Linked DNA regions of Homo sapiens. The protein of the gene in region 2 interacts with the protein of the main gene of each other region in a biochemical or structural test. Each region holds a gene or a part of one and is shown on either strand. Other genes may lie near its edges.

Region 1 (3,500 bases), on a different chromosome or scaffold from region 2:
CCACTCGACAGCTGTGTTGAAGGCCCTTCTCCCTCCCATTCCTTTCTGCATCACAGAATTCCCTCCACTTGCATTTATGACATCTCCTTAGGAGCATGTAATCTCCAAAATCAGGACCAAGAAGTTCCCAGATGGGGGCAGGGGGTGTCAGGAAACAGGCAATTCCAGAGCACTGGCAAGAACCCCGCAGAGGGGCCAGGCCAGAGGTGGGGCCTCACCCCAGCTCTCCCACCCAAGGCCCGCATTGTGCCATTCACTGGGCTACCTACTCATCCATTCATTCATTCACTCATTCATTTTCTTTCATTCTTCGAGCACCTACACTGCCAAGCACAGGGTACAGAGCAGGCATGAGGCCCTCAGGGCCCCTCAATCCTACAGAGCCCCAGCTAGTAGAAAAGGTGGCATTAAACAACTAAGGTCACAATGAGCTCCTTCCTGAAATTGCACAATGGGATGCTGTTAGAAAGGAGGAAAAAAGCTATTAGGCTAAGTTTAACAGGGGATCAAAGGATGAGAGGATGAGCATGAACTGAGGGGCTGGAGAAGAGGAAGGTAAAGGGAGGCCATTCCAAGGAAGGGGAACAGTGTGTGCAAAGGCCCCGAGGTCAAAGGGGACTTAGAGAGAGCTAGAAAGTAAAGCAGGTGGCAGCTGAAACTCCACAAACACAGCAAGTGCTATCAGATGAGGCTGGTAAAACAGAGGCCAGGATCAGGCAGGCCTTCCAGGGCCCTGAGACCTTAGGATCCTAAGAATACAGGAAAGTCATGCCAGGGTTTCAAGCAAGGGAATGAGAGGTACAAACCTGCTTCTGGTGGAAACCTGGGAGACTGTTTGTAGGATGGGCTGTAGCAGAGCCCGCTCAGACCCCGAGGGTCAGTCCCCACCTTGAAGAGCTTACATGTGAGTTAGAAAAACAAATGCCCCTAAATTCTTCTATTGCAAAGCATATTTATCAACTTGCCAAGGACTTAAAGAGTACTTTTCTTTCCAATGAAGATATCTAAATGTTTTCAAATTACTACTGTAAAAAAGTAATACACGCTTACCAAAAGAATCTCTACAATACCACCATGTATAAAAGAAAAGTGTACCCCGTCTCCTCACCTCTGATGGTTACCTTAGAGACCCATGTACTTAAAACCAGGAGTGGCCCGGGGACTGCTCCAGACCCCGCCTTTCCCTCTTACACTGCACACTTCTGCCTGTCTACACATGGAGGATGCCACAGTGCAGAAATGCCAGCAGGTTTAACAAGTACTCCTTTTATAAATAATGCAGCCCCGACCTCCACACACGTCTGGATATCTACACACTTATCTTCTTTCCTTAGAATAGATTTCAAAATGTAGAACTGTGGGGACAAGGAGAATGGCATTTAAGATTTTGACACTTAAGACTTTTCTAGAGAGCAATTCGGTAATCACTATTTTATGTTTATACATTACATATATAAACTTTTTTGGGGGGGACAGCCCAGGGTCTCGCTGTGTCACTCAGGCTGAAGTGCAGTGGCAAAATCACACCTCACTGCAACCTTGACTTTCCAGGCTCACGTGATTCTCCTGCCACAGCCTCCCAAGTAATGGGGACTACAGGCACACGACGTCATGCCTGATTTTTTTTTTTTTTTTGTAGAGATGAGGGTCTCACTATGTTGCCCAGGCTGGTCTTGAACTCCTGGGCTCAAGTGATCCTCTCACCTTGGCCTCCCAAAGTTCTGGGATTACAGGCATAAGGTACCTCGCCCAGCCCTATTATATTTTATATAATAATACATATGGGTCTCTCCAGAGAGCAAATGATAATAAATAACAGCCAACATTTATATCATGCTTACTACATGCCAGGCCCTATTCAAGGAAATTTCCATACATTAACTTAAACTTTGCAAAAACCTTACAAAATAGAAATTATTATTATGACCAGCAACAGGTATCATCAAACTCGCCAATATGATAGGCATAAAGGGAATCTCCTTCACACTGAATTGATTAGTAATGCTAACCTTTCATCACTGGCACAATGATTCAATGTTCATACGTTCTGCTCATCTTGCAATGGTGATCTCATGCTCTCCTTATTGGTCTGTAAAAGCTCTTTATATATTGACTGTTAAGCTTACACAGGCATAATGTGGTATGTATTTTCTCTCTCGTCTCTTAGCCCGGCTGACGGAGTCTTTTGCCAAAGAGATTTTTTAAAAAACTCTTATCCTATTAAATCTGTCAAGATTTTCTTTAAGGTTTCTGGGTTGGTATTGAAAGAGTAGATTAACTTGGTCCTCAAATGCTTTCTTCCAATAAAATCTTCCAAGGTAATCAACAGACCGAACAACAAACACTAAAAGCTGCTCCGGCTGAAGTGGACTTGGAGCATTAGCTCCCTTCCGTCACCCCCACCTGCCTCCAGGCGTCCTGGGGACTTTGCAGGAGAAGAACATGATGTCTTCTAGTTCTGCAGTCCCACACGTGACATAAGACAGCATGAGAAAGCCAGAAGTACTGCCCAGACCTATGAAACGCGCCTGTAACAGCGCCAAGAACAGTCAACACAGCACTAGAAAGTCTAACGACACTGAACTAGAAAGGTATTCCAAATCGTCCTCTTCTCTAAGAGGCTGTGTTCGCCCAAGCACCTCGACAAGCTGAACTTCAGCTTCAAGGTCACCACCAGCCTAGAAGCAGAGGCACGGAGAGGAACTGGCCTTTGGGACTGGAGATGCAGGGGGTGGCACATGGTCCATTTCATTCTACCCCCAGTTCCTCCAGAGGTAGAGCCCACCTGCAGGACTGTGCTGACACCTACATGGTGAGTGCATGAAACAGCACGAGCCCCAAGCAGGTGCTCATCTGGCGTCAGCTACGGGAGCACGTGACAGCTGCTCGTGGCATCATCTCCTTGCTCCAGGATACATCCTCATCCCCCGACAGTGATACAGGAAGTCACGGTGGGGGCAATCTATGCAGGACCCCGACCTTCCTTCCAGGAAGTGAGTAGGAGGTGTGTCAGCAAGGCCACAGCAAGGGGACATGTAGGACCCTGACCCTCCTTCTAGGAAGTGAGTAGGAGGTTTGTCAGTGAGGCTGCAGCAAGGGGACATGGCCATTTAATGCTGCAGGCACCATGGCCCTCATGCCACCCCAAAACAGGTCCCACTCTTCCCACGCACAGAAGCCCAAGAGAAGAAAACTGACCGTATGAAGAGAACTTACTGACCTTAGTGACACTTGTTCCCACAGAAACGCTTATGAATGAGTTAAGGTCTGTTCAAAGGTAGCATCACTTTTGACATGGCACCCCTCATCTGACCTGAACCAGAAGGTGCAGTACCCGCCTCTAACGTCAAGGCCAAAAACCCAGAGCCCACCACACGGCAGGGCATATGCTGACCACCTGAAATCAAAACAAACACTCCCTCCAAATCCATCCTTTCCGACTCCTTACCCCAGGACAGACTGGGGGCTGCCAACAACAGGGCAGGGGCTCAGTCTCGGTT
Region 2 (3,500 bases):
CTCACCTGGGAAGTGCAAAGGGTTGGGGGATTTCCCTTTCCTACCCAAGGGAAGGCATGAGTGGCTGTACCTGGAGGAGCGATACACTCCTGCCCAAATACTGCACTTTCCCAATGCTCTTCGCAACAGGCAGACCAGAAGATCCCCTCCCATGCCTGACTCGGCGGGTCCCACGCCCACACAGCCTTGTTCGCTGCCAGCACAGCAGTCTGAGATCAACCTAAGATGTGGGAGCTTGGTGGGGGGAGGGGCGTTTGCCATTGCTGAGGCTTGAGTAGGCAGTTCTATGCTCACAGTGTAAACAAAGCAGCAGGGAAGCTCAAACTCGGCAGAGACCACCACAGCTGAGCAAGGCCTACTGCCTCTCTAGATTCCACCTCTGGGGGCAGGGCATATCTGAACAAAAGGCAGCAGACAGCTTCTGCAGACTTAAACGTCCCTGCCTGACAGCTCTGAAGACAGCAATGGTTCTCCCAGCATGGCGTTTCAGCTCCCGATAAGGGACAGACTGTTATCCAAGTGGTTCCCTGACCCCTGTGTAGCCTGACTGGGAGATATCTCCCAGTAATGGCCAACAGACACCTCATACAGGTGGGTGCCCCTCTGGGACGAAGCATCCAGAGGAAGGATCAGGCAGCAATATCTGCTGTTCTGCAGCCTCCTCTGGTGATACCCAGGCAAACAGGGTCTGGAGTGGACCTCTAGCAAACTCCAATAGACCTGCAGCTAAGGTACCTGACTGTTAGAAGGAAAACTAACAAACAGAAAGGAACAGCATCAACATCAACACAAAGGACATCCACACCAAAACCCCATACGTAGGCCACCAACATCAAAGACCAAAGATAGATAAAACCACAAAGATGGGGAGAAACCACAGCAGAAAGGTTGAAAATTCCAAAAACCATAACGCCTCTTCTCCTCCAAAGAAACACAACTACTCGCCAGCAAGGGAACAAAACTGGATGCAGAATGAGTTTGACAAGATGACAGAAGTAGGCTTCAGAAGGTCAGTAATAACAAACTTCTCCAAGTTAAAGAAGTATGTTCTAACCCATTGCAAGGAAGCTAAAAACCTTGACAAAAGGTTAGACGAATGGCTAACTAGAATAAACAGTGTAGAGAAGAGCTTAAATGACCTGATGAAGCTGAAAACCAGAGTATGAGAACATGGTGAAGCATACACAAGCTTCAGTAGCTGATTCAATCAAGCAGAAGAAAGGATATCAGTGACTGAAGATCAAATTAATGAAATAAAGCGAGAAGACAAGATTAGAAAAAAAAGAGTGAAAAGAAATGAACAAAGCCTTCAAGAAATACGGCATTATGTGAAAAGACCAAATCTACGTTTGAATGGTGTACCTGAAAGTGATGGGGAGAATGGAATCAAGTTAGAAACCACTCTTAAGGATATTCACCAGGAGAACTTCCCCAACATAGCAAGGCAGGCCAACATTCAAATTCAGGAAATACAGAGACCACCACAAAGATACTCCTCAAGAAGAGCAACCCCAAGACACATAATTGTCAGATTCACCAAGGTTTAAATGAAGGAAAAAATGTTAAGGGCAGCCAGAGAAAGGTTGGGTTACCCACAAAGGGAAGGCCATCAGACTAACAGCAGATCTCTCGGCAGAAACTCTACAAGCCAGAAGAGAGTAGGGGGAAAATATTCAACATTCTTAAAGAAAAGAATTTTCAACCCAGAATTTCATATCCCGCCAAACTAAGCTTCATAAGTGAAGGAGAAATAAAATCCTTTACGGACAAGCAAATGCTGAGAGATTTTGTCACCACCAGGCCTGCCTTACAAGAGCTCCTGAAGGAAGCACTAAACATGGATAGCAACAACCGGTAGCAGCCATTGCAAAAACATGCCAAATTATAAAGACCATCGATGCTAAGAAGAAATTGCATCAATTAATGGGCAAAATAACCAGCTAGCATCATAATGACAGGATCAAATTCACATATAACAATATTAACCTTAAATGTAAATGGGCTAAATTCCCCAATTAAAAGACACAGGCTGGCAAACTGGATAAAGACTCAAGACCCATCAATGTGCTGTATTCAGGAGACCCATCTCACGTGCAAAGACACACATAGGCTCAAAATAAAGGGATGGAGAAAGATCTACCAAGCAAATGGAAAGCAAAAAAAAATCCTGGTCTCTGATAAAATAGACTTTAAACCAACGAAGATCAAAAGAGACAAAGAGGGCCATTACATAATGGTAAAGTGATCAATTCAACAAGAAGAGCTAACTATCCTAAAATATATGCACCCAATACAAGAGCACCCAGATTCATAAAGCAAGTCCTTGGAGACCTACAAAGAGACTGAGACTCCCACACAATAATAATGGGAGACTTTAACACCCCACTGTCAATATTAGACAGATCAAGGAGACAGAAAATTAACAAGGATACTCAGGACTTGAACTCAGCTTTGGACCAAGCGGACCTAATAGACACCTACAGAACTCTGCACCCCAAATAAACAGAATATACATTCTTCTCAGCACCACATCCCACTTATTCTAAAATTGACCACATAATTGGAAGTAAAGCACTCCTCAGCAAATGTAAAAGAACAGAAATCACAACAAACTGTCTCTCAGACCACAGTGCAATCAAATTAGAACTCAGCATTAAGAATCTCATTCAAAACCACACAACTGCATGGAAACTGAACAACCTGCTCCTGAATGACTACTTGGTAAATAACGAAATTAAGACAGAAAGAAATAAGTTATTTGAAACTAATGAGAACAAAGACACAACATACCAGAATCTCTGGAACACATTTAAAGCAGTGTTTAGAGGGAAACTTAGAGCACTAAATGCCCACAAGAGAAAGCAGGAGAGATCTAAATCAACATCCTAACATCACAATTAAAAGAACTAGACAAGCAAGAGCAAACAAATTCAAAACCTCGCAGAAGACAAGAAATAACTAAGATCAGAGCAGAAGTGAAAGAGATAGAGACAGAAAAAAAACCTTCAAAAAAAAAAATAAATGAATCCAGGAGCTGATTTTTTGAAAGATCAACAAAATAGACCATTAGCAACACTAATAAAGAAGAAACGAGAGAAGAATCAAATAGATGCAATAAAAAATGATAAAGGGGATCACCACTGATCCCACAGAAATACAAACTACTATCAGAGAATACTATAAACACCTCTACGCAAATAAACTAGAAAATCTACAAGAAATGGATAAATTCCTGGACACATACACCCTCCCAAGACTAAACCAGGAAGTCGAATCTCTGAATAGATCAATAACAGGTTCTGAAATTTAGGCAATAATTAATAGCCTACCAACCAAAAAAAGTCCAGGACCAGACAAATTCACAGCCGAATTCTACCAGAGGTACAAAGAGGAGCTGGTATCATTCCTTCTGAAACTGTTCCAATCAATAGAAAAAAGGGGAATCCTCCCTAACTCATTTTATGAGGCTAGCATCATCCTGATACCAAATGATATCTGGC

Evidence for each region. The genes of interacting proteins can lie anywhere in the genome.
Region 1: of the proteins of GSK3B (region 2) and HDAC4, one has a biochemical effect on the other in vitro, tested with the Homo sapiens proteins (one study listed by BioGRID).

The regions. Positions count from the first base shown.
Region 1 is NC_000002.12:239,394,521-239,398,020, forward strand, and holds part of HDAC4 (histone deacetylase 4), read right to left. Parts: intron 1-3,500. UniProt on the Homo sapiens protein: Responsible for the deacetylation of lysine residues on the N-terminal part of the core histones (H2A, H2B, H3 and H4).
Region 2 is NC_000003.12:120,003,948-120,007,447, forward strand, and holds part of GSK3B (glycogen synthase kinase-3 beta), read right to left. Parts: intron 1-3,500. UniProt on the Homo sapiens protein: Constitutively active protein kinase that acts as a negative regulator in the hormonal control of glucose homeostasis, Wnt signaling and regulation of transcription factors and microtubules, by phosphorylating and inactivating glycogen synthase (GYS1 or GYS2), EIF2B, CTNNB1/beta-catenin, APC, AXIN1, DPYSL2/CRMP2, JUN, NFATC1/NFATC, MAPT/TAU and MACF1.